2 separate regions of the Homo sapiens genome follow, and region 1 is linked to region 2. Evidence: fine-mapped expression QTL. Tissue or cell type: whole blood. Region 2 holds a variant in brackets; the other region holds the start of a gene. All regions are shown on one strand. Distances are from middle to middle.

Evidence for each region. PIP is the estimated chance that this variant, and not a neighbour inherited with it, causes the effect.
Region 1: it holds the start of DHFR2, and the variant in region 2 is fine-mapped to the expression of DHFR2 in whole blood (INTERVAL, PIP above 0.99). The same link has a PIP of 0.9 or more in aorta and sigmoid colon.

What each region holds. Positions count from the first base shown.
Region 1 is chr3:94,057,676-94,073,533 of GRCh38, reverse strand. It overlaps DHFR2 (dihydrofolate reductase 2), which reads left to right and starts at 10,618. Exons shown (of 2, transcript NM_176815.5): 1 at 10,618-10,788; 2 at 11,928-15,612. The coding sequence starts at 12,023. The coding sequence ends at 12,586. NSUN3 (NOP2/Sun RNA methyltransferase 3) reads right to left here and starts at 10,473. Exons shown (of 6, transcript NM_022072.5): 1 at 10,396-10,473; 2 at 8,988-9,097. The coding sequence starts at 10,407. RefSeq lists an enhancer at 10,340-10,579.
Region 2 is chr3:93,731,829-93,747,686 of GRCh38, reverse strand. No RefSeq gene overlaps it. Among named protein-coding and RNA genes, the nearest start is that of PROS1, 230 kb to the left of the region's middle. The variant C/T (reference allele first, on the strand shown) is at 6,158.

The DNA of each region.
Region 1 (15,858 bases), 330 kb before region 2:
AATCAAAACCACAATGAAATACCATCTCACACCAGTTAGAATCATGATCATTAAAAAGTCAGGAAACAACAGATGCTGGAGAGGATGTGGAGAAACAGGAACACTTTTACACTGTTGGTGGGAGTGTAAATTAGTTCAACCATTGTGGAAGACAGTGTGGCGATTGGTCAAGGATCTAGAACTAGAAATACCATTTGACCCAGCAATCCCATTACTGGGTATATACCCAAAGGATTATAAATCCTTCTACTATAAGGACACATGCACACATATGTTTATTGCAGCACTATTCACAAGAGCAAAGACTTGTTACAAACCCAAATGTCCATCAATGATAGACTGGATAAAGAAAATGTGTCACATATACCCCATGAAATACTATGCAGCCATATAAAAGGATGAGTTCACGTCCTTCGCGGGGACATGGATGAAGCTGGAAACCATCATTCTCAGCAAACTATCACAGAACAGAAAATTAAACACTGCATGTTCTCACTCATCAGTGGGAGGTGAACAATGAGAACACATGGACACAGGGAGGGGAACATCACACATCAGGGCCTGTCGGGTGGTGAGGGGCTGGGGGACAGATAGCATTAGGAGAAATACCTAATGTAGGTGATGGGTTGATGGGTGCAGCAAACCACCATGGCATGGGTATACCTATGTAAGAAAACTGCACATTCTGCACATGTACCTCAGAACTTAAAGTATAATAATAAAAAAAAAAGAGAAGAACTTATTGCAGACTGAGGCAGAACTCTTCAGAAATTACTCTATCTCATTCTTTAGTGACTAGACAAAATAAGGCCTAAATAGAACAAACGAAATTTTTGATCTTTCATGATCTACACCCAACCCTACTGAACTATACAGATTTCTTCTAACAAGTTTCTTTAAAATTTACTGATCTCCACATGCCCGGCCCCCAACCTCCCTGAATAACCTTTCCTCTCTCACCTATCTGTTCTCAACTTAGGGAGTTTTCTCTCTCCAACGAAGTCTTTCCACTTACCACCCGGTTCACATCCTCCACCATACTCTGATATCATTATTAATAAATGTTACTGACTGGATGTGTACAATGTTCATTTTGCATGTTTATATCATAGAACCATCACAACAACCTTGAGAGAGGCAGCTCTTACTCCTATTTTAGAGGTTAACTGAGGCTTTTAGAGATTTTGGCAACTTACCTGAGGTCACATTGCTAGTACGCAGAAGTATCTGATTCAAAATCAGACTGACTTTAAAGTCTAACAGAAGTGATTCCCAACGTGTGAGACCCTGGTACTACAGCACAGAGCTACAAAAGGGGGCAAGAAAGAGAATTTTACCCCAACCCTCACTTAGTGCAAGTGGCCATGACCTCCCTGAAACCCTCTTCTGTCTAACAATGAAATCAGCTTGCCACATCCTGCCTATAGAAGCAGCTGCAACAGACCAACTCTTGAAGGGACTGCTAAGGCTGCTCAGGCTGGTGCTTCCTAGCCCTGAGAAAGCAAAGCTGTGTATTAATATGATTCTTACAGTTCCCCTTGCACACACCTGCCACTGACCTCCATTCTCCTCCCCACAACACACACACATACAACCCCTCCTGTGCCTGCACTGGGTGGGTTGCTAACCTGGGGCTGGAGGGAAAGTGGCTTCCGAATCCAAAGCTTTTATGGATGGGCAAGTAGCTTAGCAGGCAGTAGAGGGAATGTATGTTAGATGACTCTAGAAAACAGCGGCCAGGTGCCACACTCCAGGCCTTTTCCCAAGATTCACAGTTAGTCTGAAGCGGCTCCATTTACTGGTCTTCCAGGTGAGAAGAAGTGCAAGTACCTCAGTAGCCAGCAGAACTGGAGACATACAAGGTCAGTGACCTGCAAATTTGCTAGTGCACCACTGATATCATTTTGAAAAAAAACACATTTTAAGTTGACATTAAAATCTCACCATATGTTTAAAGGATGCAATTTCCAGCATACTGTAAAAATTGACATTTTAAAATACAAATTATACTGCCTTTAGTATGTGCCCAGTGGAAACTAAATATCATAATGATTTTGATACCCATCATCATCCATTTAAAAATTCATAGACTGACTCATCTTTAACAGGTGGAAATTTTATGCTGCTCGTTTTCCTCTTTTATTTACATTCTACTTCATATAACTTCATCTTAATATATTTTCATGCTTGAAATCTTTTTATCACCCTATCATGCTTCTCTAGCCCCCACATATACACATGTGTATGTACTAAATTTGTTTTTCCTGTGGTCTTAAATCTCTAAGTGTTAAAATGGTAACTTCTGGATTCAGGGATCAATAATATTATTAGTACAAAACCGATCAAAACAACTTATAAAAGTAAAAATTGGTAAGAAATGGATACTTAATGAAATGAGCTTTTGTTTCCATATATCCATAAATGAATATTACTTCTTACTATAATAAAATCAGTCAGGATTCAACATCATTTTTATGCCTATTTTGTGTTTTTTATAAAAGCTGAGAAAAACCTTCAGTTAAATAAGTGGATGAGAATTAAATATATTTTGTTATAGCAATGTTTCTTACTTTGAATTCTTTTGGAGTTATATCCCCAAATCACTTAGCAACCTATCATCAAAAATGTCTTAAATGAATTGATAGCTGACATCTCAATCAAGGCTCCTTTACTTTTGTTGAAAGCAAAACTTGGAAACCACCTGACTTGTCAGAGAATCTGTTAGTCATTTGCTTTCTCACACTGACACTCCAATAGTTTCTGGCATATGGAGGTTTTGAATACCTGGAGGAACATAGCATAGAAGCCAGAATGGTGCAAGTGTGCCTTTCTTTTTGTGAAAAGGGTGAAGGGAAATTGGAGAAAGGCAGGTTGGGAAAGGAGAATATGTGCCCCCTTATGTACAGAGGGGCAGAGTAATTTTCTGAAAGAGAATACATGAAAGTTGAGGATGTGAAAACTGACTGCGGTCACTTGCCTGAGCCTACATACCCCCTTGAAAAGTCTTTCTATTTCTCACTCATTGTTGCTCCTCCCTCCAACATGCTAAGTCTGTTTTGTCTTCTTTTTTTTAGAGACAAGGTCTCACTCTGTCACCCAGGCTGGCGTACAGCTGTGCGATCATGGCTCAGTGAAGCCTCGACCTCCTGGACTCAAGCGATCCTCCTACCTCAGTCTCCCAAGTAGTTGCGCCTACAGGCACGCACCACCACACCCAGCTAATTGCTTATTTTTTCTAGAGATGAGGTCTTGCTATATTGCCCATGCTGGTCTTGAACTCTTGTCCTCAAGCAATCTTCCCGCCCTCAAGCAAATCTCCTGCCTTGGCCTCCCAAAGTGCTGGAATTACAGGTGTGAGCCATCGTATATTATCTTCTTGTCAACATTCATTCATTCTCTAAAAATACACCGTCTGTCAACTATAGGCTAGGCACATCTATTTACTGATAATGATATAAAATAAGCTTAAATTCCTAAGAAACAAAAGAAAAATAAATTCCTAAGAAACAAAAGAAAAATTCCTAAGAAACAAAAGAAAAATATTAAAACTGACCAAAAAAAAATTAAGTAAAACTAGACAGATGGTACACAAGAATAACTGAATTTTGAGAAACAGTTAATGAAGCTAAACTAATATATCACACTGTGTGTCACCCTGCCTGCTTACCCATTTCCCTAACTCATTTATATGGGAGCCTTGACTTATTTTTCTCCTTGGCTAAGTGCCTGGGGCCTAAATCCTGGAGTAAATGAATAAAATTGGAGTTCTGATTCAAGGCTCTCTGAACTACTTACTATTTTAACAAAATTAAAGCATTAAAAAATTAAAAGCTAGTTAAGTTAAAATTTTGCAAAACTGTATAATGTATCATTTCGATAATGTTTATTATTTGATAGTATAATTTTCATTCAACTTTTCTGTGACTTTATTCTTTTTTCCTACTACTCTACTCTCCACCCTACCTTCCGTCCTAGTGACGAAGATGAAAAATATCATTTAATCTAGAAATTGTTAAACACAATTAATATAACCCTGTAGATTACAGAACCTATTTAAATTTCCATAGCTAAAAAAGAGAAATTCCTTGATTTAGTGCTATTATTATCCACTAGAGGGTGCTCATTCAACTCTTTTAAAAGTTAGAAATGAAAAACAAATCAATTTATGGAAATGCACCAAAGTATGTTTTTGAGTCATTTTATTTTTACTCCTCAGAGATGCTAACGAAGAGCTGATGGCTTCCTATTCTATTTTGGCAATGGATCTTCCTTGTATCTCACAGAAGGGCAATTTATGTCCAGATTTGTTATTCACTGTACCTCAGATAGGAAATCCTTTGCGTTTCTGGTGGAACATCAAAAGGCTAAAAATCCTGAACATAAGAGTCCTTCATACTACGGGATCTGAGCATACATTTGGAAGGATGCAACTCTGGACCCTTCACAGCAGCACAGATGGTATAGGAAAAGGCGTGGACTTTTAAGTCACAGGACTGAATTTGCCACAACTACAAGATACCTATCAATTGTTCTAACCTCTGACTTTAAAGTGTCTAAAAGTTACTTCTTCACAGAGATTTGCACAGATTAAGGCTGAAAATGTGTGTAAAGCCAACATATAGGACAATATAGAAATCTAGATACTGGTTCATTTCTCTCTTTCTTAACCACCTCAGTCTACATCCTTCACAGATTATGGTAATATTATCAGGTTGTGTGTGTGTATGTGTGTGTGTGTGTGTGTGTGTATTTTTTTTTCCTCTCTGTATGTGAACTCTCGGTCAGTGAGGAGAGTGTCCAAAAAAAAAAAGATGTTGCAGACAGTTCAGACTTATATGGTCTGTTTGTTTTGCTTTCTATAAAGTACATGTAAAATTTCCACAGTTAATAAATATTTCTAATTAATGCTTATATTAATCATACATTTATTAAGTATCCATTAATTATCCAATTAATCATACATGTATTTGAGGGCAGGATATATACAGTCCATTTTTGTATTCTCAGTGCTTAGCACAATGCCTAGTACACAAACACTGACAAAACTGGGAATAAGCAGAAGACTTGCCCAAGTCTCAAGGTATTGGTTCTTCAAAACCCTCCCTTGTCAGGAAAAAGATAAGCAAGTTAGTAAATTATGACGATAAAACCTTGAAAGAATCACAATAGCTCTATCAACAAAATGCAATGGATACACGAAGGGCAAAACTAATTTTGCCAAGGGACATACAGAAGGCTTGATGAAGTGGTTAATCATAGTAACAAAAATAATGCTAATGCATATGAAGTCCTTACTATACGTCAAACAACATTCCATTCACATTGTATATACACAAATTCATTTTATCTTCCCAAATGATTATATGAAATAGATACTATTTTTTCCCCATTTTACAGACGAGGACAATGGAGCACAGAGATATTAACTCACCTAGGTCATATGCTACAAGATGCAGAGGTGGGATTTGAACCCACACTACTGCACAGAGGGAGAAGGGAAAAAGGCATTCCTAGCAGAAGAACAGCATAGCCAGTCCCAAAGGCATGAAGGAGCCTGCCCAGAAAGATAAGATTTTTAGTCCAAACATAATACTGCAGACTTCTGGGGAGCAAAGGTTTGTACTCAAGGTGTGACACAATGGAATTTGGTAGCACCGAGAAACAGCATGACAGAGTGGGTACAACAAACTCTCAAGGCTCTTCAAAGTGTTAGATGTGTATACTTGGGCAAGTTAAAGTGTGAGATGTGTATACTTGGGCAAGTTACTTAACCTCTGTGTGCCTCAGCTTTCCTATATATAAATGGAAATAACTATTTCAGAGGGTTGTACATAGGATTGTTATTATTCATAAAGTGATTACAACATTGACTGGTACATAGTGCCATAAAAGTGGTTGCTAAAATAAGCAAACAGGTAAGTACTAAACATGGCTGTTGCAATATGCCAGATAAGAGATTGGGAAGGTCTAAGTGAATGGCAGCAGTAGAGAATTTTTTTAAAAAGATCCAAATTAAAAGGGGGCAGGGTAGTTGAGTCTCAAAGACAACTCTCACTTCTGACACCAATTACAAGTTCAGGGATTCCAAGGATGACTCTCAGGTTTGATTATTCACTGGGACACAACCGAACTCACTGAAAGCTGTTATAATCACAGTTATAGTCACAGTTTATTATAATGAAAGCATACAGATTAAAAACAATCACAGGAAGAGACTCATAGTGCAGAATTCACAACAATTCAAAGCATGAAGCTTCCAGCTGTCCTCTCCAACGGAATCATCAACGAGGTCAACTTTTGCTGGCAGTAATGTATGACAGTATGCACAAGAGTATTGCCAACCAGGGACACTCACCAAAGCCTTGGTATCCACTTTTTATTGGGGCTTGGTCACGTATATATGATTGACTGTCCATACAGCTTTTAGTCACAAGCCCTTCTGGATGTTGAGTTGACACCTGTGGTCCCCAGGCCTCAACATAAATCACATCGTTAGATTATCAGGTGTGACCTCAACACCCAGGTAAACAAAGACACACTTATCAGGAAGCACATTCCAAGGGCTTAGAGATCGCCTCCCAGGAGCTGAGGGCAGTTGCCAGACCTATTTTTATATAAGGTTCATTTTTTACTACAAAGGTAGTGAAGGTATAGAGAAGAAAGGAGGAAACCAGACTGATGGTGATACACTTAATTGAGATAAAATATGCAGGTAGCAAAGGCAACATAAGTTTGAAAGGGAAAAATAATAATACACTTTTGAGTTTGCCAAGTAACTGAAGTTGCTAAAAAACAGAAGTATGGGACTAAATCTTAGGAAGAACCTCACAGCTTGAGATGACAGCATACTGATAAAAGTCATGCCATGAATGGGCTTACCTGAGGAGAACATGGAGGCAACAAATAGAGCAAGAATTGAACCAGGGTAAACTCCAATTTTAAAGGGCTGCTCAGAGGATGACTAGACAAGAAAGGTTACTAAAAAAGAGCAAAACTAAATACTAAATCTTCCTCACTACTACAGGAAACTAAAAATATTGAATAAATTACTTTCTAAATAGGCCAAAAAAAGAGCACTTGACTTTCCCTGGAAGTAGACTCTACAAGTACATTATGTCTTGCAAACAAGCAGTTAAAACACAAAATATTTCATTCTGTTCTTATTTCCCCATACCATCTTCCATGCTCAGACTACTTCCTAAGCTGAGAAACCTTTATTTTGCCTATGGCAAATTTAGTGTGTGTTTATGCAAAACTTAAATTACCACAAAAACCCCACAATAGGGTAAATGAAGCAGAAGGCACAGCTAATTAAATGGATTTGAGGTTCATTGCTCATTTTGCTCAGGGTCAAATAATAGTATATGACTTTCTGAGTACACTAAGTAGAAAAATAAGTCATTATAGGATATGAGTAGCCAGACTGCTACAAAGTCTACAGAAAAAAAAAAAGCCTCTTGAAATCTTTTTTTTTTTTAAATCACATCCCAGATATGAGACAGTACAGAACAAGGATGAGCTGTGGGAGTTATTGAGTCAGACAACCCAGGCACAAGCCTCAGCTCTGCCACTTATTAGCTGAGTGAACTTGGGCAAATTACTTAAACTCTTAACGGGTTTGTTCTGAGGATCATGTAAGTCAGTATTGTCTGGCATATAGTAAACATGCAATAAGTGTTTGGTTATTTGGATACTCTATTTGAGTACCTTTGTATACTGAAAACCTCATAAATTTATTACATACTTTATTATTCAGTTCTTCATCTCTGTGACAGAAAATACCCATTTGAAAATCTACTTTTGAAATAAAACCCACGAGTATAAACGGTTTGCATATTACAGCATTTACCAATTTCTATAACAGCTTAATTGTCCTAAAATTATCTCAGAATCACCTCAGACTTTGTGATCTTTATTAGCCAAAACTTAATTTGTTTTAGAAAATGCTCAGAACTGCCCTTTGTAAAGGAGAAATGCTTAAGAGTTGATCCAAGAAAAAAATGGACAAGCCAACCATCTGAAAAATTAGTCTGGACCAAGTTCCAGATAATATCTGTAGCCATGCAACTTTTTTTCCTCATGCAACATGTAGTGGGCTTTTGCCCTAACTTCATGAACAGTGCACCTTCTTCCCTCAACCTAGGAGGCCTAGTTCTTTTTGTCAAAGTAACTCCTCTAAGTCACCAAGACCCAGCTTCCCTTCAGGCCTTTGCTGGCACCCTCAGGCTTTGTTAGATACTTGGATCACAGTATTTACAAATTAGTTTATATAGTTGTAACCACACCCATCTCCTCACTTCTCCCATTAACACTAACTAGACGGCATGTAAACTGGACATGCAGACTGTCTTGCTCTGTATTCCAGAGAGGGTTATATAGTGTATCAGGCACTCAATGTCAAGAACCCATACAGTAATCCATACATTAACATCATCTTACCAAACAGACAAATCACATTTCTCCCACTTCCATGCATTAAACATTCCTTATTTTTATATTTAAATAATTTTGTGTGTATATGCACGTGTTCAAAATATACCCAGCCATCGACATAGGAAAGAAATATGATTACCAAATAAAGTGTACCTTTGGCTGAGATAAAGCAGTGCTGGCTTTAAAGATTTGTTGTATTATCTTCTAAATTTCAGAAATCAGTCAAATATTCCAAATTTTATGTTTTTTTCTTTTACAGTATAATTAATTTTGTCAAACTAGTGGGCATTCCTATTTCAAGGATCAAAGTAATTGCTCAAAGCAAAGGCGTAACAATTTGTGCTTACCATCCCGACAAAGTTTTATTTCCCCTTTCCAACATGCTATGATTCATTCTATTTCTTCTTAGTTGTTCCTTTCTATAGCTTCAGTAGGAAAAGGCAACCAGATTTAGATTCCTTTGCCTTTTAACCTCACAGCATCCCTCCCACAAAAAGGAGGACTACATATTGTACTTTGTTCCATCATAAAGCATCGAGATGAATTATACTAACCTTACTGTATTCCAGGCATCTCCGAGTTCTTTGGAATACTGTTTTTCAAAATGATCCAACACAACTTTGCAAATCTGTTTTGCAAGCTTCCCCTCTGATTTTGCTTTCAGCTATGACGATAAGAAAAAGTTGCTGACACACAGTGATATTACAAATTTACTGAACGTCAACATTAGCAAGGTCTTTTTTTAAGACAAGAACACTTTTTTTGGATAATTACTAGTTCTTGAAATGGAAGCAATACCTTACATGTACCAAAACTGTACATTATCTAATTATGAAAAAGCAAGGTTTTTCCAAATAATTATTTTCCAAATGTGAAGCAAAGGTTAAAACAGAATCTACTGGGGCTGAAGAAACTGTCAAAAGGAACAAAATTAATTTTAAAAAGTCACTGTAGGGGCTAGGCAGGTGGCTCACACCTGTAATCCCAGCACTGTGGGAGGCAGAGGCGGGAGGATCACATGAGGTCTGGAGTTCAAGACCAGGTTGGCCAACACGGGAAACCCGTCTCTACTAAAAATACAAAAATTAGCCGAGAGTAGTGGTGGGCGCCTGTAACCCCACCTACTCAGGGGGCTGAGGTGGGAGAATCGCTTGAACTCAGGAGGTGGAGGTTGCAGTGAGCCGAGATCGCGCCACTGTACTCCAGCTGGCTCATGCTTTGCAGGGACGAGGCGAGAGGATCATTTCCCAGTTCAAGACCAGACTGGAAAACATATCAAGGACGTGTCTCTACAAAAAGTAAAAAAAAAAAAAAAATTAGCCAGGCGTAGTGGCCTGCTCCTGTAGTCCTAGCTACTAGGGAGGCTGAGGCTGGAGGATCGCTTGAACCCAGGAGTTCAAGGTTACAGTGAGCTATGATGGAGCAGCTGCATTCCAGATTGGGTGACAGAGCAAGAACTTGTATCTAAACAAAACTAAAAAGTCACCGGGGATGCTGACATCAAGAAAAATTGGTGAAAGGTATTTGAGAACTCTGTACTATCTTTGCAACGTTATTTTAAAGTGAAAAGTTAATTTAGGGAGAAAAGTCACTCCAATTTCATCGTGAACTTCCTTGCAATTGTTTCATTTATTCATCCAAGAAACGTGTATTCAATGCCTACTATGTAACAGACACTGTTCTAAGCTCCCGGGATACCGCTGTGACACAGAAAACAAATCTCAGCCCTCCAAGAGCTGGAGGGAGTGGGTACTAGAAGTCTGCGAGCTGGACGGAAGGGACTCAGCATTACAGCACTCAGCATTATTTCAGGGCTTGACAGTAAAGCCAAAGAAACGCTGATCTCGCGAGGGGACGAACAAAGGTGATGTTCCCCCATCCCAGCACCCTCCCTCGCCACCTCGGCCGCGTCCAGAAGCGTCTCATTCAGATAGAGGTACCCAGCCGGGCCCCAGGTCTCACCTGGGTCAGCATTGTCCCGCTGAGAGCTTTCAAACAACAGGTGTACGCGAATCAGTATCAAAAAGCCTCCAGGGAACTGAAAAAAACAGTCTGACTTCCGGGATTCGCGGGCATCCACTTTCATTCTCACGTTTCCTCTTCAATTTCTCGCGAGATACTGATTTGCTCGCGCTATAGAATTCTTGTCGAAGAGGCTTAGCTCCCGCGGGAGATTTCGTGCGCAGTTACTTCCGGTAGCTGGTAAAGGCTGATACTTCCCAGGACGCGGAGGTAACGGGCCAGGGCCAAAGCGACTTTCGCTACTTGGATTGGTCGGCGTAGCTTTGGGCGGCCGGACCTTAGAAAGTCACACATCTGCGCGCCTGTGCGGCCCCTGCTTCTGCGGATGCTGAGGTGGGAGGATCGCTTGGGCAGAAGTTTGAGGTTGCAGTGACCCGTGATCGCGCCACTGCACTGCAGCGTGGGCGACAGAGCGAGGCTTTGTCTCAAAAATAAATAAAAAGTCGCATATTGTGCTGAACAGTGTGTATATGCATGGGGCTCAATAAAGGAATGAGTTTTGGGGTTATGTTGTATGATGACTGATTTAAAATATTCTCAAAGCGAAGCTAGTTACTGACTTAATCTACCAAATCTAGTGACCCCTGTTAACCTAGACATTCAGTACCCAAGGATAAAAGGGTGGAATATAATGAAAAAGAAATTAAGTCATGCTTTTCCCCAGACCTGGCCCATGGGGATAATCTCTCCTTTTAATGGAGAGTGTTAAACTGAAGTAGGCATGTAAAGCGGTTACAACAGTGATTAGGAAACAGTAAATGCCCAAATGTTAGCTGCTATTATTTTCACTATTGTGATCATTGTGATTTTTGTCGCGTTGATACCAAATGCGTGAAGACCAAAAGGACCCTCCACTCTAGCCTCCCCAATTCACCTTTACAAGGGAGCAATGTTTAATGGTTCTCCAAGGAAGATGTTTATTACACCTATTTTGACACGAATAGAAGTTTATTTGCTCTTTTGGTGTCATGCTTCAGTAACTATCATTTGTAGCAGCAATCAGCAATTAGAAAAAACCGGTTTGATATGGTCCCTGATAGTTAATAATCATCATTTTGAGTTGTTCCTTGATGCTCATATCAATATACGTACATGCTATAGGTACAAGTCTTATATTCATGTAAAAACATGTCTTTCCTTCTAATCTGATTTGAAGCTTAATATATTTATTTATTTAAACAAGTTTCCAAGTCACCTAAAAAATGCATCTTATTAGAATTTAGATTTGGTACAAAAGACTATGATAATCAGGAATGAAATGATGCCATCTCTTGGATGCCGTCTGTTTAATGTTTGTGGAAAAGTCGGTCTAACCTTTCAGCCTCTGTATTTTTTATAATTTTATAAATTTATATTTTATAAATATTTTATAAATTTATACTTTATAAATATATTTTATATAATTTATTTTTCTATGTTCATTCCAGAATGTTGCAATTAATTAATACAGTGGTATTGTATTTGCAATGTAGGCACGTAAAAAAATTTGAAGAAGGGAATTTCGCGGCATTCTTGGCCTGGCTTCCTGGCGTAGCCAGCAAGTTCGGAGGTGTTAACCGCTGCTGTCATGTTTCTTTTGCTAAACTGCATCGTCGCTGTGTCCCAAAACATGGGCATCGGCAAGAACGGGGACCTGCCCAGGCCGCCGCTCAGGAATGAATTCAGGTATTTCCAGAGAATGACCACAACTTCTTCAGTAGAGGGTAAACAGAATCTGGTGATTATGGGTAGGAAGACCTGGTTCTCCATTCCTGAGAAGAATCGACCTTTAAAGGATAGAATTAATTTAGTTCTCAGCAGAGAACTCAAGGAACCTCCACAAGGAGCTCATTTTCTTGCCAGAAGTTTGGATGATGCCTTAAAACTTACTGAACGACCAGAATTAGCAAATAAAGTAGACATGATTTGGATAGTTGGTGGCAGTTCTGTTTATAAGGAAGCCATGAATCACCTAGGCCATCTTAAACTATTTGTGACAAGGATCATGCAGGACTTTGAAAGTGACACGTTTTTTTCAGAAATTGACTTGGAGAAATATAAACTTCTGCCTGAATACCCAGGTGTTCTCTCTGATGTCCAGGAGGGGAAACACATCAAGTACAAATTTGAAGTATGTGAGAAGGATGATTAATATGAAGGTGTTTTCTGGTTTAAGTTGTTCCCCCTCCCTCTGAGAAAAGTATGCATTTTTACATTAGAAAAGGGACTTTTGTTGACTTCAGATCTATGGATAATTATTTCTAAGCAACGTGTTTTTATTCCTCACTAATCTTGGCTATATCAGATACCATTTATGAAACATTCTTGCTATAACTGTCTCTCCAAGACCCCGACTGAGTCCCCAGCACCTGCTACAGTGAGCTGCCATTCCACACCCATCACATGTGGCACTCTTGCCACTCCTTGACATTGTCAGGCTTTTCTAATGTTGGTAGTATTTATTAAAGATGAAGATGCACATACCCTTCAGCTGAGCAGTTTCACTAGTAGGAAATACCAAAAGCTTCGTACATGTATATCCAGAGGTTTGTAGACAAATGTTGCAGCCTTTTTTGTAACAGTGAAAAACTGAAAACAACCTGGAAGTCCAGTGATGGGAAAATGAATATATTTCTGTCTTAGATTGGGGAACCCAAAGCAGATTCCAAGACTGAAATTTAAGTGAAAGCAGTTTATTTGCTAGGTCATACCAGAAGTCATCAATCGAAGTATGGAGAAATGGAACTGAGAAGGTAAAAACCAGTTCAAAATCAGTGAGGAGGTTCTCAATGGTAACGAGCTCCATACTGCTGAGATACAGGGAAACGGAGGGGAGAAAGCTAGAGTATTTAACCCCCACTCCTTGGTTGTCAGCTCCCTGTCCTGTGTGTGGGCAGAACGTACTCCACCTACTCAATAGCAAGTTCCAGGTGTTTGCTGAAAGAAGCTGCTGTAATGTACGGGAACGGTGAATGCCAAACACTTAAAGCAATTCCATGTTTAAGTATGTAAACTCTTCATACTTTTTTTTTTTTTTCTTTTTAAGACAGAATTTCACTCTTGTTGCCCAGGCGGAGTGCAATGGAACAACCTTGGCTCACGGCAACTTCAGCCTTCCCAGGTTCAAGCAATTCTCCTGCCTCAGGCTCCTGGGTGGCTGGGACTACAGGCGCGTGCCACCACGCCAGGCTAATTTTGTATTTTTGGTGGGGACATTCCATGTTGGTCAGGCTAGTCTCGAACTCCTGACCTCAGGTGATCCTCCTGCCTCGGCCTTCAGGGGTGCTGGGATTACAGGCATCAGCCACTGCACTTGGCAGATCTTCATTCTTTTAGTAAAAAGTATAAAGCCACACATGGTTTATTTGAAATATTTTATAATTTAAAAAAGTACAGAAGCAGGAAAACCAATTCTAGGTTCAAGTGAGGGATGATGGTAGTTTGAACCAAAGGATTGCATGTGGTAAGAAATTGTGATTTAAGATATATTTTAAAGTTGGAAGTAGCAGGATATTCTGATGGAGTTTGACTTTGGTTTTGGGCCCACTGAGTTTGAGATGCCTTTGAGAAATGAAAGAAGTAGAGAGAGAATTAAAAACTGGCCAGGAGTGGTGGCTCACGCCTGTGGTCCCAGCACTTTGGGGGGCTGAGGTGGGTGGATCACCTGAGACCAGCTTGGGCAACATGGTGGAGCCCTGTCTCTACAGAAGATACAAAAATTGGCTGGGCATTGTGGCACACACCTGTAGTCTCGTCTACTCACGGGGCTGAGATGGAGGATTCAATTGAGCCCATGAGTTCAAGGCTGCAGTGAGTCGTGATTTTGCCACTGCACTCCTGCCTGGGTGACAGAAGAGACCCTGTCTCAAAAAAGAATCTGAAAACAACGGAACCATGCCTTCAGAATTCTATAAAGTTATTTTCAACTGATAAATCTATATTCAGGCAAAGAATCAAGGGTGAAGGTAAAATAATACATTTTTAGACAAGCAAAGACTCAGGGGTTACATGTACCCTTTCTTGGGAAGCTATCGGAGAAAATACTCCAGCAAAATGAAGGCGTACACAAACCAGAGAATGACGTGGATCCAGCAAATAGTATCCAACACAGGCAATATTCCAGCTATGGAGCTAGCTTTAAAAAGAAACAGTAAAAATACTAATAGATTAGCTGGGTGGGATGGCCCATGCTTGTAGTCCCAGCTACTCAGGAGGCTAAGCAAAAGGATGGCTTGAGCCCAAGAGTTCAGAGCAGCCTGGCCACCATAGTGAGATCCCTTCTCTTAAAAATAATAGGTTATTGCCAGATTTGGGGCATTTGGAAAGAAGTGCATTGAAGATAAAGCAAAAGTAAAAAAAAAAAAAAACAAAAAAAAACAAGGGGGAAGGGTTGGTTAGGCAATAATTAATTCTAGGGCAGGAAGAAGTACAGGATAGGAAGTAAGAGCATCATACGCTGTTTTTCTCAACAATGGGCAATATGTACATAGTCATAATGATGTGGTGACTGACTGCTTAGCCCCTAAATCTGGTAACTACTTTGGGACAATATGGGGGGAAAAGTGAAGATAGTGATGGTGTAAGAGCTAAATCCTCATCTGTCATATCAAGAAATCACTATATAATGTATAACATAATCAAGAAATGACTAAGTAGTTATGTGAAGAAAAGAATGGAACATTGCTAGAAGAGTTAGAAGTCATTGCTCCAGAGAATTAGGAGGGATGGGGCAGGGGACTGTTAGGATGCATTATAAACTGAAGAGGCTTTTAAAGATTACATGTATTAATATATGTATTCACTTGAAAAACTAAAAAAATAGTAATTTTTTAAAACCCATGGAGGTAACTACCAGAAGGAAAAACTAAGAGAATGAAAAGTGCTTTCCTCTGGAAAGAACAAGTCGCAGGACTGTTTTCATTGTAAGACTTTTGGAGCCATTTGATTTTACTTAACCATTTTCATATATTTCTTTAATAAAAATAATTCTATCTTAATAAAAAGTTACACTCATTCATTAAAAAAAGAATTTTAAGACTGTAATAAGAATCATAGTTTATTTCTGTTAGAGAAAGGCAATGTGTTATACTTGGAAAGAGGTCATATTAATTTTATCACATTTTTGGGACTCAGCATCTTTATATTTTCTGATTTTAAATAAACAACTTTGCTTATGAATTTTGTCTGAATCTCTAATAATCTCCTTATAATGCCTAGTTAATTATGCCCTTAGTTTGGGTAGGTTTTCAAATCTTATTAGTTATTTCTTTTTTAGATTACCGCTCATGTCCACTTATCTATAGGTGTCTTAGTATCATTTTATTTATATTTGAGATAACCATGTCAGATGTTAAAACACTTTCTCAATTTTTCTTATAACCATTTGACTTTAAGTGTGAAGGTATTTTAAAATTTTTTTTGTGC
Region 2 (15,858 bases):
CGCTTTGAGGCCTATGGTAGAAAAGAAAACATCTTCATATAAAACTTGACAGAAGCATTCTCAGAAACTTCTTTGTGATGTGTGCACTCAACTCACAAACGTGAATCTTTCTTTTGATAGAGCAGTTTTGAAACACTCTTTTTGTAGAATCTGCAAGGGGGTATTTGGACCACTTTGAGGCTTTCATAGGAAACGGGAATATCCTCCCTTAAAAACTAGACAGAAGCATTTTCAGAAACTTCTTTGTGATGTGTGCATTCAACTCACAGAGTTGCACCTTTCTTTTGATAGAGCAGTTTTGAAACACTCTTTTTGTAGAATCTGCAAGTGGATATTTTGCAGCTGTGAGGCATTCTGAGGAAATGGGAGTATCTTCACCTAAAAACTAGACAGAAGCATTCTCAGAAATTTCTTTGGATGTATGCATTCAACTCACAGAGTTGAACCTTCCTTTTGATAGAGCAGTTTTGAAACACTATTTTTGTAGAATCTGCAATTGCAACTTGGGAGGGCTTTGAAGCCTGTGGTGGAAGAGGAAATATCTTCACATAAAATCTAGACAGAAGCATTCTCAGAAACTTCTTTGTGATGTGTGCATTCATGTCACATAATTGAACCTTCCTTTTGATAGAGCAGTTTTGAAACAGACCTTTTGTAGAATCTGCAACTGGATATTTGGAGTGCTCTGAGGCCTACGGTGGGAACAGGAATATATTCACACAAAAACTAGACAGAAGCAATCTCAGAAACTTCTTTGTGATGTGTGCATTCAACCCACGGAGTTGAACATTCCTTTTGATGGAGCAGTTTTGAAACACTCATTTGTAAGAAAAATCAGCAAGTGGATATTTAGATATCTTTGCGACCTTCTGTGGAAACGGGAATATCTTCACCTAAAAACTAGACAGAAAGATTCTCAGAAACTTCTTTGTGATGCGTGCTTTAAACTCTCAGAGTTGAACCTCTCTTTTGATGGAGCAGTTTTGAAACACAGCTTTTGTGGAATCTGCAAGTGGATATTTGGAGTGCTTTGAGGCCTATGGTGGAAAAGGAAATATCTTCATATAAAAACCAGACAGGAGCATTCTCAGAAACTACTTTGCGATGTGTGCATTCAACTCACAGAGCTGAACCTTCCTTTTGATAGGGCAGTTTTGAAACACTCTTTTTGTAAGATCTGCAAAGGGATATTTTGCCAGATCTGAGGCCTTCTGTGAAAACGGGAATAACTTCAAATGAAAACTGGACAGAAACATTCTCAGAAACTTCTTTGTGATGTATGCATTCAACTTACAGAGGCGAAACTTTCTTTTGATAGAGCAGTTTTGAAACACACTTTTTGTAGAATCTGCAAGTGAACATTTTGAGGGCTTTGAGCCCTGTGGTGAAATAGGAAATATCTTCACATGGAGACTAGACAGAAGAATTCTGAGAAGCCACTTTGTGATGTGTGCATTCAACTCACAAAGTTGAACATTTCTTTTGATAGAGCACTTTTGAAACACTCTTTTTGAAGAACGTGCAAGTGGACATTTGAACCGCTTTAAGGTCTGTGGTGGAAAAGGAAACATCTTCATATAGAGACTAGACAGAATTATTCTCACAAAACACATTGTGATGTGTGCATTCAACTCACAGAGTTGAACATTCCTTTTGATAGAGCAGTTTTGAAACACTCTTTTTGTAGTATCTGCAAGTGGATATTTGGAGCGATTTGAGGCCTATGGTAGAAAAGCAAATATCTTCATATAAAAGTAGAGAGAAGCATTCTCAGAAACTACTTTGTGATGTGTGCCTTCAACTCACAGAGTTGAACCTTCTTTTTGATAGGGCAGTTTTGAAACACTCTTTTTGTAGAATCTTCAAGTAGATATTTGGACCACTTTGAGGCCTTCATTGGAAACGGGAATATCTTCAAATAAAAACTAGACAGAAGCATCTCAGAAACTTTTTTGTGATCTATGCATTCAACTCACAGAGTTGAACATTCCTTTTGATAGAGCAGTAGTGAAACACTCTTTTTGTAGAATGTGCAAGTGGACATTTGTTGGGCTTTGAGGCCCATTGTGGAAAAGGAAATATGTTCACATAGAAACTAGACAGAAACATTCTGAGAGACTCCTTTTTGATGTGTGCATTCAACTCATGGAGTTCAACCTTCCTTTTGATAGAGCAGTTGTGAAACACTCTTTTTGTAGAATCTGCAAGAGAATATTTGGACCGCTTTGAAGCATTCGTTGGAAACGGGAATATCTTCAAATAAGAACTAGACAGAAGCATTCGCAGAAACTTCTTTGTGATGTGTGTATTCACCTCACAGAGTTGAACCTTCCTTTTGATAGAGCACTTTTGAATCTCTCTTTTTGTAGAATCTGCAAGTGGACATTTGGAGGGCTTTGAGGTCTGTGGAGGAAGGGGGAATATCCTCACTTAAACACTAGACAGTAACATTTTCAGAAACTTCTTTGTGATGTGTGCATTCAACTCACAGAGTTGAGCCTTCCTTTTGATAGAGCAGTTTTCAAACACTCTTTTTGAAGAATCGGCAAGTGGAAATTTCGAATGCTTTGAGTCCTATGTTAGAAAAGGAAATATCTTCACATAGAAACTAGACAGAAGTATTCTCTGAAACCATTTAGTGATGTGTGCATTCAACTCACAGTTTTCAATTTTCCTTTTGATAGAGCAGTTTTGAAAAACTCTTTTTGAAGAATCTGCAAGTGGATATTTGGAGCGCTTTGAGGCCAATGGTAGAAAAGCAAATATGTTCATATAAAACTTGACAGAAGCATTCTCAGAAACTTATTTGTGATGTGTGCATTCAACTCACAGAGGTGAATCTTTCTTTTGATAGAGCAGTTTTGAAACACTCTTTTTGTAGAATTTGCAATAGGATATTTGGACCACTTTGAGGCCTTTGTTGGAAACAAGAATATCCTCACCTAAAAAGTAGACAGAAGCATTTTCAGAAACTCCTTCGTGATGTGTGCATTCAACTCACAGAGTTGAACCTTTCTTTTGATAGAGCAGTATTGAAACACTCTTTTTGTAGAATCTGCAAGTGGAGATTTGGAGCTCTTTGAGGCCTCTGGTAGAAAAGGAAATGTCTCATATGAAAACTGGATAAAAGCATTCTCAGAAACTTCTTTGTGATTTGTGCATTCAACTCACAGATTTGAAGCTTCTTTGTGATAGAGCAGTTTTGAAACACTCTTCTAGCAGAATCTGCAAGCGGCTATTTGGACTGCTTTTGGGCCTTCGTTGGAAACTGGAATATTTTCGAAGAAAAACTACACAGAAGTATTCTCAGAGACTTGTTTGTGATGTGTGCATTCAACACACAGAGCTGAACCATCCTTTTGATAGAGCAGTTTTGAAACACTCTTTTTATAGAATCTGCAATTAGATATTTGGAGCACTTTGAGGCCTATGATAGAAAAGCAAATATCTTCACAGAAAAACTAGACAAAAGCATTCTCAGAAAGTACTTTGTGATGTGTGCATTCAACTAGCTGAGATGAATCTTTCTTTTGATAGAGCAGTTTTGAAACACTTTTTTTGGACAATCTGCAAGTGGATATTTCGACTGCCTTGAGGCTTTCATTGGAAACGGGAATATTCTCACATAAAAACTAGACAGAAGCATTTTCAGAAACTTCTTTGTGATGTGTGCATTCAACTCACAGAGTTGAACATTACTTTTGATAGAGCAGTTGTGGAACACTCTTTTTGTAGAATCTGCAAGTGGACATTTGGAGCTATTTGAGGCCTATGGTAGAAAAGGAAATATCTTCAAATAAAAACTAGACATAAGCTTTCTCAGAAACTACTTTGTGATGTGTGTATTCAACTCACAGAGTTGAACCTTCCTTTTGATAAATCAGTTTTGAAACACTCTTTTTGTAGAATCTGCAATTGAACATTTGGAGGGCTTTGAGGCCTGTTGTGGAAAAGGAAATATCTTCACATTGAAACTAGACAGAATTATTCTCAGAAACAACTTTGTGATTCGTGCATTCCACTCACAGAATTGAAACTTCCTTTTGATAGAGCAGTTTTGAAACACTTTTTTTGAAGAATCTGCAAGTGGACATTTGGAGCATTTTGAGGCCTATGGTAGAAAAGGAAATATCTTCATATGAAAACTAGAGAAAAGCATTCTCAGATACTTCTTTGTGATGTGTGCATTCATCTCACTGTGTTGAACCTTCTTTATGATAGAGAAGTTTTTAAACACTCTTTTTGTAGAATCTGCTAGTGGATATTTGGACCACAATGAACCCTTCGTAGGAAATGGGAATATCTCCAAATAACAACTAGACAGAAGCATTCTCGAAACTTCTTTGTGATCTGTGCATTCAACCCACACATTTGAAACTTCTTTTTGATAAAGTAGTTTTGAAACACTCTTTTTGTAGAATCTGCAAGTGGATATTTGGACAGATTTGAGGCCTTCATTGGAAACGGGAATATCTTCACCTAAAAACTTGACAGAAGAATTCTCAGAAATTTCTTTTTGATGTGTGCATTCAACTCATAGATGTGAACATTCCTTTTGATAGAGTACTTTTGAAACCCTCTTTTTGTAGAATCTGCAAGTGGATATTTGCAGTACTTTGAGGCCTATGGTAGAAAAGCAAATATCTTCATATAAAAACTAGAGAGAAGCATTCTCAGAAACTTCTTTGTGATGTGTGTATTCAACTCACAGAGTCGAAATTTTCTTTTGATAGAGCAGTTTTGAAACACTCTGTTTGTAGAATCTGCTAGTGTAAATGTGGAGCACTTTAAGGCCCGTTGTGGAAAAGGAAATATCTTCACATGGAAACTAGACAGAGCCATTCTCAGAAAGTTCTTTGTGATGTGTGCATTCAACTCACAGAGTTGAAAAATCTTTTTGATAGGGCAGTTTTGAAACACTCTTTTTGTTGAATCTGCAAGTGTATATTTGGAGTGCTTTGAGGCCTATGGTAGAAAAGCAAATATCTTCACATAAAAACTAGACAGAAGCATTCTCAGAAAGTACTTTGTGATGTGTGCATTCAACTCACATAGGGGAAAATTTCTTTTGATAGGGCACTTTTGAAACACTCTTTTTGGAACATCTGCAAGTGTATATTTGGACCACCATGAGGCCTTCGTTGGAAACCGTTATATTCTCACATAAAAACTAGACAAAAGTATTTTCAGAAACATATCTGTGATGTGTGCATTAAACTCACAGAGCTGAACACTCGTTTTGATACAGCAGTTTTGAAACACTATTTTTGTAGAATCGGCAAGTGGATATTTGGAGCGCTTTGAGGCCTCTGTTAGAAAAGGAAATATCTTCATGTGAAAACTAGACAGAAGCATTCTCAGAAACTTCTTTGTGACGTGTGCATTCAACCCACAGAGTTGAACCTTCCTTTTGATAGAGCAGATTTGAAACACTCTTTTTGTAGAATTTGAAAGTGTGTATTTAGAGTGCTTTGAGGCCTATGGTAGAAAAGGAAATATCTTCACCTAAAAAGTAGACAAAGTATTCTCAGAAACTAGTTTGTGATGTTTGCATTCAACTCACAGAGTTTAACATTCCTCTTGATAGAGCCGTTTTGAAACATTCTTTTTGTAGATTCTGCAAGTGGATATATGGACCTCTTTGAGGCCTTCGTTGGAAACGGGATTTCTTCATATAAAACTAGACAGAAGTATTCTCAGAAACTTCTTTGTGATGTGTGCATTCAACTCACAGAGTTGAACCTTCCTTTGGATATAGCAGTTTTGAAACACTCTTTTTGTAGAATCTGCAAGTGGATATTTCGAGGCTTTGAGGCCTATGGTAGAAAAGCAAATATCTCCATAAAAAAACTAGACAGAAGCATTCTCAGGAACATTTTTTGATGTTTGCATTCAACTCGCAGAATCGAACCATTGTTTTGATAGAGTACTTTTAAAACACTCTTTTTCTAGAATGTGCAAGTGGACATTTGGAGTGCTTTAAGGCCTTGCTTGGAAAAGGAAATATCTTCACATTGAAAGTAGACAGAAGCATTCTCAGAAACTTCTTTTTGTTGTGTGCATTCAATACACAGATTTGAACATTCCTTTTGCTACACAAGTTTTGAAACACTCTTTTTGTAGAATCTGCAAGTGGATATTTGGATCACTTTGGGGC[C/T]TATGGTAGAAAAGCAAATATCTTCACATAAAAACTAGACACAAGCATTCTCAGAAATTACTTTGTGAAGTGTGCATTCACCTCATAGAGGTGAAACTTTCTTTTGATAGAGCAGTTTTGAAACACTCTTTTTGGAGAATCTGCAAGTGGGTATTTGCACCGCTTTGAGGCCTTCATTGGTAATGGGAATGTCTTCAAATAAATAGACAGAAGCATTCTCGGAAACTTCTTTTTGACATGTGCATTCAACTCACAGAGTTGAACCTTCCTTTTGATAGAGCAGTATTGAAACACTCTTTTTGTAGAATGTGGATGTGTACATTGGGAGAGCTTTGAGGACTGTGGGGGAAAGGGAAATATTTTCACATAGAAGCTAGACATATGCATTATCAGAAACTTCTTGATGATGTGTGCATTCAACTCACACAGTTGAAACTTCCTTTTGCTAGAGCAGTTTTGAAACCCACTTTTTGTAGAATCTTCAAGTGGATATTTGGACAGCATAGAGGCCTTCGTTGAAACGGGATCATCTTCAGCTAAAAACTAGACAGAAGGATTCTCAGACATTTCTTTGTGATGTGTACATTCAACTCATGGAGTTGAACATTCCTTTTGATAGAGAACTTTTGAAACCCTCTTTGTGTAGAATCTGCAAGTGTATATTTGAAGCACTTTGAGGCCTACGGTAGAAAAGTATCTTCATATAAAAAGTAGACAGAAAATTTCTCAGAAACTTCTTTGTGATGTGTGCATTCAACTCACAGGGTTGAACCGTCCTTTTGATAACGCAGTTTTGTAACACTCTTCTCATAGAATCTGCAATTGAATATTTGGACTGCTTTGAGGCCTTCGTTGGGGAGTGGAATGTTGTCAAATAAAAAATTGACAGAAGCATTCTCAGAAACTTCTTTGTGATGTGTGCATTCAACTCACAGAGTTGAACCTTCCTTTTAGTAGAGCAGTTTTGAAACACTCTTTTTGTGGAATCTGCAAGTGGGTATTTGGAGTGCTTTGAGGCCTACGGTAGAAAATCAAATATCTTCATATAAAACCTAGACAGAAGCATTCTCAGAAAGTAACTTGTGATGTGTGCATTCAATTCACAGAGGTAAACTTTTCTTTTGATAGAGCAGTTTTGAAAAACTCTTTTTGGAGAATCTGCAAGTGGATATTTGGACCCCTTTGAGGCATTCTTTGGAAACGGGAATATTCTCATATAAAAAGTAGACAGAAACATTTTCAGAAACTTCTTTGTGATGTGTGCGTTCACCTCACAGAGTTGGACATTACTTTTGATTGAGCAGTTTTGAAACACTCTTTTTGTAAGTGGATATTTACATGGCTTTGAGGTCTTCGATGAAAATGGGAATGTCTTCAAATAAGTAGACAGAAGCATTCTCAGAAACTTCATTGCGATGTGTGCATTCAACTGAAAGAGTTGAATATTATTTTGATAGAACAGTATTGAAACACTCTTTTTGTAGAATGTGCAAGTGGACATTTGGAGGGCTTTGAAGCCTGTGGTGGAAAGGGAAATATTTTCACATAGAAGCTAGACATAAGCATTATCAGAAACTTCTTTGTGATGTGTGCATTCAACTCACAGAGTTGAAACTTCCTTTTGATAGAGCAATTTTGAAACACTGCTTTTGTAGAATCTGCAGGTGGATATTTGGACTGCTTTGAGGCCTTCGTGAGAAACGGGAATATCTTCAAATAAAAACTAGACAGAAGCATTCTCAGAAACTTCTTTGTGATGTGTGCATTCAACTCACAGAGCTGAACCTTCCTTTTGATAGAGCAGTTTTGAAACACTCTTTTTGTAGAATGTTCAAGTGGATATTTGGAGTGCTTTGAGGCCTATGGTAGAAAATCAAATATCTTCACATAAAAACTAGACAGAAGCATTCTCAGAAAGTAATTTGTGATGTGTGCATTCAACTCACAGAGATGAACCTTTCTTTTGACAGAGCAGGTTTTAAACACTCTTTTTGGAGAATCTGCAAGTGGATATTTGGACCCCTTTAAGGCCTTCGTTGGAAACGGGATTTCTTCATATAAAACTAGACAGAAGCATTTTTGGAAACTTCTTTGTGATGTGTGCATTCAAATCACAGAGTTGAACATTACTTTTGATAGAGCAGTTTTGAAACACTCTTTTTGTAGAATCTGCAAGTTGACATTTGGAGGGCTTTGAGGCCTGTGATGGAAAAGGAAATATCTTCACATGGAGACTAGACAGAAGCATTCTTAGAAACCTCTTTGTTATGTGAGCATTCAACTCACAGGGTTGAACCTTCCTTTTGATAGAGCAGTTTTGAAACACCCTTTTTGTAGAATCTGCAAGTGACATTTAGAGGACTTTGAGGCCCTTGGTGGAAAAGGAAATATCTTCACATAGAAATTAGACAGAAGCATTCTCAGAAACTTCTTTGGATGAGTGCATTCATCTCACAGAGTTGAACCTTCCTTTTGATAGAGCAGTTTTGAAACTCTCTTTTTGTATAATCTGCAAGTGGATATTTTGACCTCTTTGAGTCCTTCATTGGAAAAGAGATTATCTTCAAATAAAAACTAGACAGAAGCATTCTCAGAATCTCCTTTGTAATGTGTGCATTGAACTCACAGAGTTGAACATTCCTTTTTATAGAGCAGTTTTGAAGCACTCTTTTTGAAGAATCTGCAAGTGGACATTTGGAGCACTTTAAGCCCTATGGTAGAAAAGAAAATATCTTCATAGGAAAAGTAGACAAAAGCATTCTCAGAAACTTCTTTGTGATGTGTGCATTCAACTCACAGAATTGAACATTCTTTTTGATAGAGAAGTTTTGAAACACTCTTTTTGTAGGATCTGCAATTGTATATTTGGACTGCTTTGAGGTATTCGTTGGAAATGGGAATATCATCAAATAAAAACTAGACAGAACCATTCTCAGAAACTTCTTTGTGATATGTGCATTCAATTCACAGATTTGAAAATTTCTTCTGATAGAATAGTTTTGAAACACTCTTTTTGTAGAATCTGGAAGAGGACATTTGAAGGATTTTGTGGCCTGTGGTGGAAAAGGAAATATCTTCACATAGAAACTAGACAGAGCCATTCTCAGAAACCACTTTGTGATGTGAGCATTCAACTCACAGAGTTGTACCTTCCTTTTGATAGAGCGGTTTTGAAACACGCTTTTTGTAAAATCTGCAAGTGGATATTTGGACACCTTTGTGGTCTTCGTTGGAAATGGGAATATATTCAATTATGTACACAGGAGCATTCTCAGAAACTTCTTTGTGATGTGTGCATTCAACTCACAGATTTGAACCTTCCTGTTGATAGAGCGGTTTTGAAACACGCTTTTTGTAAAATCTGCAAGTGGATATTTGGTCAGCTTTGAGGCCTTCGTTGGAAAAGGGAATATCTTCAAATAAATAACTAGACAGAAGCATTCTCAGAAACTTCTTTGTGATCTGTGCATTCAACTCACAGAGTTGAACCTTCCTTTTTATAGAGCAGTTTTGAAACACTCTTTTTGTAGAGTCTGCAAGTCGATATTTGGACAGATTTGAGGCCTTCGTTGGAAACGGGAATATCTTCACCTAAAAACCAGACAGAAGCATTTTCAGAAATTTCTTTGTGTTGTGTGCATTCAACTCCCAGAGTTGAAACTTCTTTTTGATAGAGCAGTATCGATACACTCTTTTTGTAGAATCTGCAAGTGGATATAGGGAGCGCTTTGAGGTCTATGGTAGAAAATCAAATATCATCACATAAAAAGTAGACAGAAGCGTTCTCAGAAAGTTCTTTTGGTGTCTGCATTCAACTCACAGAGGTGAACATTTATTTTGTTACAGCAGTTTTGAAACACTAATTTTGGAGAATCTGCAGAATATTTGGACCACTTTGAGGCCTTCGTGGGAAAGGGGAATATTCTCACATAAAAACTAGACAGAAGCATTTTCAGAAACTTCTTTGTGATGTGTGCATTCAACTCACTGAGTTGAACATTACTTTTGATAGAGCTGTTTTGAAACACTCTTTTAGTAGAATCTCCAAGTGGATATTTGGAGCTCTTTGAGGCCTATGGTAGAAAACAAAATATCTTCAAATAAAACCTAGTCAGAAGCATTCTCAGAAACTTTTTTGTGATGTGTGCATTCAACTCACAGAGTTGAATCTTCCTTTTGAATGAACAGTTTTGAAAACCTCTTTTTGTAGAATCTGCAAGTGGACATTTGGAGGGCTTTGAGGCCTGTGATGGAAAAGGAAATATCTTCACATAGGGACTGGACAGAAGCATTCTCAGAAACCTGTTTGTGATGTGTGCACTCAACGCACAGAGTTGAACCTTCCTTTTGATAGATCAGTTTTGAAACAAACTTTTTGAAGAATCAGAAAATGAACATTTGGAGCACTTTGAGGCCCCTGTTAGAAAAGGAAATATCTTCACATAGAAACTAGACAGAAGTATTCTCAGAAACCTCTTTGTGATGTGTGCATTCAACTCACAGAGATGAACCTTCCTTTTGGTAGAGCAGTTTTGAAACACTCTTTTTGAAGAATCTGCAAGTTGACATTTTGAGCGCTGTGAGGCCTCTGATAGAGAAGGAAATATCTTCATAAGAAAATTAGACAAAAGCATTCTCAGAAACTTCTTTGTGGTGTATGCTTTCAACTCACAGAGTTGAACTTTCTTTTTGATAGAGAAGTTTTGAAACACTCTTTTTGTAGAATCTGCAATAGGATATTTGGACTGTTTTGAGTTCTTCGTTGGAAACGGGAATATCTTCGAATAAAAACTAGACAGAAGAATTCTCAGAAACTTCTTTGTAATGTGTGCATTCAACTCACAGATTTGAAAATTCCTTTTGATAGAACAGTTTTGAAACACTCTTTTTGTAGAATCTGCAAAGGGACATTTGGAGGGTTTTGAGGCCTATGGTGGAAAAGAAAATGTCTTCACATGGAAACTAGACAGAAACATTCTCAGAAACCTCTTTGTGATGTGTGCTTTCAACTCACAGGGTTGAACCTTCCTTTTGATAGAACAGTTTTGAAACACTCTTCTTGTAGAATCTGCAAGTATATATTTGGACCGCTTTCAAGCATTCGTTGGAAAGGGGAATATGTTCAAATAACTAGACAGAAGCATTTTCAGAAACTTCTTTGTGATGTGTGCATTCAACTCACAGAGGTGAATATTTCTGTTGATAGAGCAGTTTTGAAACAATCTTTTTGGAGAATACACAAGTGGATATTTGGACCGCTTTGTGGTCTTCATTGGAAACGGGAATATTCTCACATAAAAACTAGACAGAAGCATTTTCAGAAACTTCCTTGTGATGTGTGCATTCAACTCACAAATTTGAATGTTACTTATGATGGAGCAGTTTTGAAATACTCTTTTTGTAGAATCTCTAAGTGGACATTTGGAGCACTTTGAGGCCTAAGGTAGAAAAGTAAATATCTTCAAATAAAAACTAGACAGAAGGATTCTCAAAAACTTCTTTGTGATGTGTGCATTCAACTCACAGCGTTGAACTTGCCTTTTGACAGAGAAGTATTGAAACATCCTTTTTGTAGAATCTGCAAGTGGACATTTGGAAGGCTTTGGTGCCTGTGATGGAAACGGAAATATCTTCACATTGAAAGTAGACAGAAACATTCTCAGAAAATTCTTTGTGATGTGTGCATTCATCTCACAGAGTTGAAACTTCCTTTTGATAGAGCAGTTTTGAAACACTCTTTTTTATAATCTGCAAGTGGATATTTTGACCGCTTTGAGGTCTTTGTTGGTAACGGCAATATCTTCAAATAAAAAATAGAAAGAAGCATTCTCAGAAAGTTCTTTGTGATCTGTGCATTCAACTCGCAGACTTGAACCTTTCTTTTCATAGAGCACTTTTGAAACACTCTTTTTGAAGAATCTGCAAGTGGATGTTTGGAGCGCTTTGCGGCCTAAGGTAGTAAAGCTTATATCTACATATAAAAAGTAGACAGAAGCATTCTCTGAAGCTTCTTTGTGATGTGTGCATTCATCTCACAGAGTTGAACCTTTCTTTTGATAGAAAGCCTTTGAAGCACTCTTTTTGTAGAATCTGCAAGTGGACATTTCGAGCGCTTCAAGGCCTGTGGTGGAAAAGGAAATATCTTCACATAGAAAATAGATGGAAGCATTCTCAGAAACTTCTTTGTGATGTGTCCATTCAACACACAGAGTTGAACCTTCCTTTTGATAGAGCATTTTTGAAACACTCTTTTTGTAGAATGAGCAAGTGGATATATGGAGCGCTTTGTGGCTTATGGTAGAAAAGCAAATATCTTAACTTAAAAATTAGACGGAAGCATTCTCAGAAAGTACTTTGTGATGTGTGCATTCAACTCACAGAGTTCAATCTTCTTTTAGATAGAGAAGTTTTGAAAAACTCTTTTTGTAGGATCTGCAAGTGGATGTTTGGACTACTGTGTGGCCTTCGTTGGAAACGGTAATATCTTCGAATAAAAACTAGACAGAAGCATTCTCAGGAACTTCTATGTGATGTGTGCATTCATCTCAGAGATTTGAAACTTCCTTTTGATAGAACAGTTTTGAAACACTCTTTTTGTAGAATCTGAAATTGGAAATTTGGAGTGTTTTGAGGCCTGCGGTGGAAAAGGAAATATCTTCACATAGAAACTTGACAGAGCCATTCTCAGAAACATCTTTGTGATGTGTGCATTCAACTCACAGTGTTGAAACTTCTTTTTGATGGAGCAGTTTTGAAACACTCCTTTTGTAGAATCTGCAAGTGCATATTTGGACCGCTTTGAGGCGTTAATTTGAAATGGGAATATCTTCAAATAACTAGACCTGAGCATTCTCAGAAACATCTTTGTGATGTGTGCATTCAATTCACAGAGTTGAACATTCCTTTTGATAGAGCGGTTTTGAAACACTCTTTTTGTAGAATCTGCAAGTGGATATTTGGTCCGCTTTGAGGCCTTCGTTGGAAACAGGAATATCTTCAAATAACTAGACAGAAGCATTCTCAGAAACTTCCTTGTGATCTGTGCATTCAACTCACAGAGTTGAACGGTCTTTTTGATAGATCAGTTTTGAAACCCTCTATTTGTAAAATCTGCAAATGGATATTTGGACAGATTTGACGCCTTCGTTGGAATCGTGAATATCTTCACCTAAAAACTAGACAGGAGCATTCTCAGAAATTTCTTTGCGTTGTGTGCGTTCATCTCACAGAATTGAGCCTTCCTTTTGATAGATCAGTTTTGAAACACTTTTTTTTTATATTCTGCAAGTGGATATTTGGACCGCTTTGAGGCCTTCATTGGAAATGGGAATATCTTCAAATAAAAACTAGACAGAATCGTTCTCAGAAACTTCTTTGTGATCTATGCATTCATCTCATGGAGTTGAACTTTCCTTTAGATAGAGCACTTTTGAAACACTCTTTTTGAAGAATCTGCTAGTGGATATTTGGAGCGCTTTGAGGTCAATGGTAGAAAAGCAAATATCTTCATATAAAAAGTAGACAGAAACATTCTCTGAAACTTATTTGTGATGTGTGAATTAAACTCACTGAGTTGAACCTTTCTTTTGATAGACAGCGTTTGAAACACCCTTTTTGTAGAATCTGCAAGTCGACATTTCGAGAGCTTTAAGACCTGTGGTGGAAAAGGAAATATCTTCACATGGAAACTAGACAGAGCCATTCTCAGAAACCACTTTGTGATGTGTACATTCAACTCACAGAGTTGAACATTACTTTAGATTGGGCACTTTTGAAACACTCTTTTTGTAGAATCTGCAAGTGGATATTTAGAGCGCTTTGAGGCCTATGGTAGAAAAGCAAATATCTTCATATAAAAACTAGACAGAAGCATTCTCAGAAACTTCTTTGTGATGTGTGCTTTCATCACACAGAGTTGAACTTTCCTTTTGTTAGAGCAGTTTTGAAACACTCTTTTTGTAGAATCTGCAAGTGGATATTTGGACAGCTTAGACGCCTTCGTTGGAAATGGGAACACCTTCACCTAAAAACTAGACAGAAGCATTTTCAGAAACTTCTTTGTGATGTGTGCATTCAACTCACAGAGTTGAAGATTACTTTGGTAGAGCAGTTTTGAAACACTCTTTTTGTAAAATCTCCTAGTGGACATTTGGAGACCTTTGAGGCCTATGTTAGAAAAGGAATTATCTTCAAATAAAAACTAGACAGAAGCATTCTCAGAAACTTCTTTGTGATGTGTGCATTCAACTCACAGGGTTGAACCTTTCTTTTGATAGAGCAGTTTTGAACCACTCTTTTAGTAGAATCTGCAAGTGGATATTTGGACGGCTTTAAGGCCTTCAATGGAAAGGGAATATTGTCACATAAAAACTAGACAGAAACATTTTCAGAAAGTTCTTTGTGATGTGTGCATTCAACTCACAGAGATGAACCTTCCTTTTGATAGAACACTTTTGCAACACTCTTTTTAAAGAATCTGCAAGTGGACTTTTGGAGCCTTTTGAGGCCTATGGTACAAAAGGAAATATCTTCACATAGAAACTAGACAGAAGTATTCTCAGAAACCTCTTTGTGATGTGTGCATTCAACTCACAGAGTTGAACTTTCCTGTTGATAGAGCAGTTTTGAAACACTCTTTTTGTAGTTTCTGCAATTGGATATTTGGAGAGCCTTGAGGCCTCTGGTAGAAAAAAAAATATCTTCATATAAAACTAGACAGAAGCATTCTCAGAAACTTCTTTGAGGTGTCTGCATCCAACTCACAGAGGCGAACCTTACTTTCGATAGAGCAGTTTTGAAACAGTCTTTTTGTAGAATCTGCATGGGGATATTTGGACCGCTTTGAGGCCTTCATTGGAAACGGAAATATCCCCACTTAAAAACAAGACAGAAGCATTTTCAGAAACTTCCTTGTGATGTGTGCATTCAAATCACAGATTTGAACCTTCTTTTTAATAGAGCAGTTTTGAAAGTCAATTTTTTTGAATCTGAAATTGGACATTTGGAGGGCTTTGAGGCCTATTGTGGAAAAGGAAATATCTTCATATGAAAACCAGACAGAAGCCTTCTCAGAAACTTCTTTGTGATGTGTGCAATCAACTCACAGAGTTGAAACTTCCTTTTGATAGAGCAGTTTTGAAACACTTTTTTATAGAATCTCCCAGGGGATATTTGAGGCGCTTTGAGGCCTTAGTTAGAAACCAGAATATCTTCAAATATAAAGTAGACATAAGCATTCTCAGAAATTTTTGTGATCTGTGCATTCAACTCACGGAGTTTAACCTTACTTATGATAGAGCGGTATTGAAAATCTCTTTTCGTAGAATCTGCACGTGGACATTTTGGGGGCTTTGAGGCCTGTGGTGGAAAGGAAATATCTTCACATAGAAACTAGACAGAAGCATTCTCAGAAATTTCTTTGGAATGTGTGTATTCACCTCACAGATTTGAACATTCCTTTTGGTAGAGCGCTTTTGAATCACGCTTTTTGTAGAATCTGCAAGTGGATATTCGGAGCACTTTGACTCCTACGGTAGAAAAGGCAATATTTTCATATAAAAACTAGACAGAAGCATTCTCAGAAACTTCTTTGTGAACTGTGCATTCAACTCACAGAGTCGAATATTTCTTTGGATAGAGCAGTTTTGAAACAGTCTTTTTGTAGAATCTGTAACTGGACATTTGGAGCCCTTTAAGGTCTG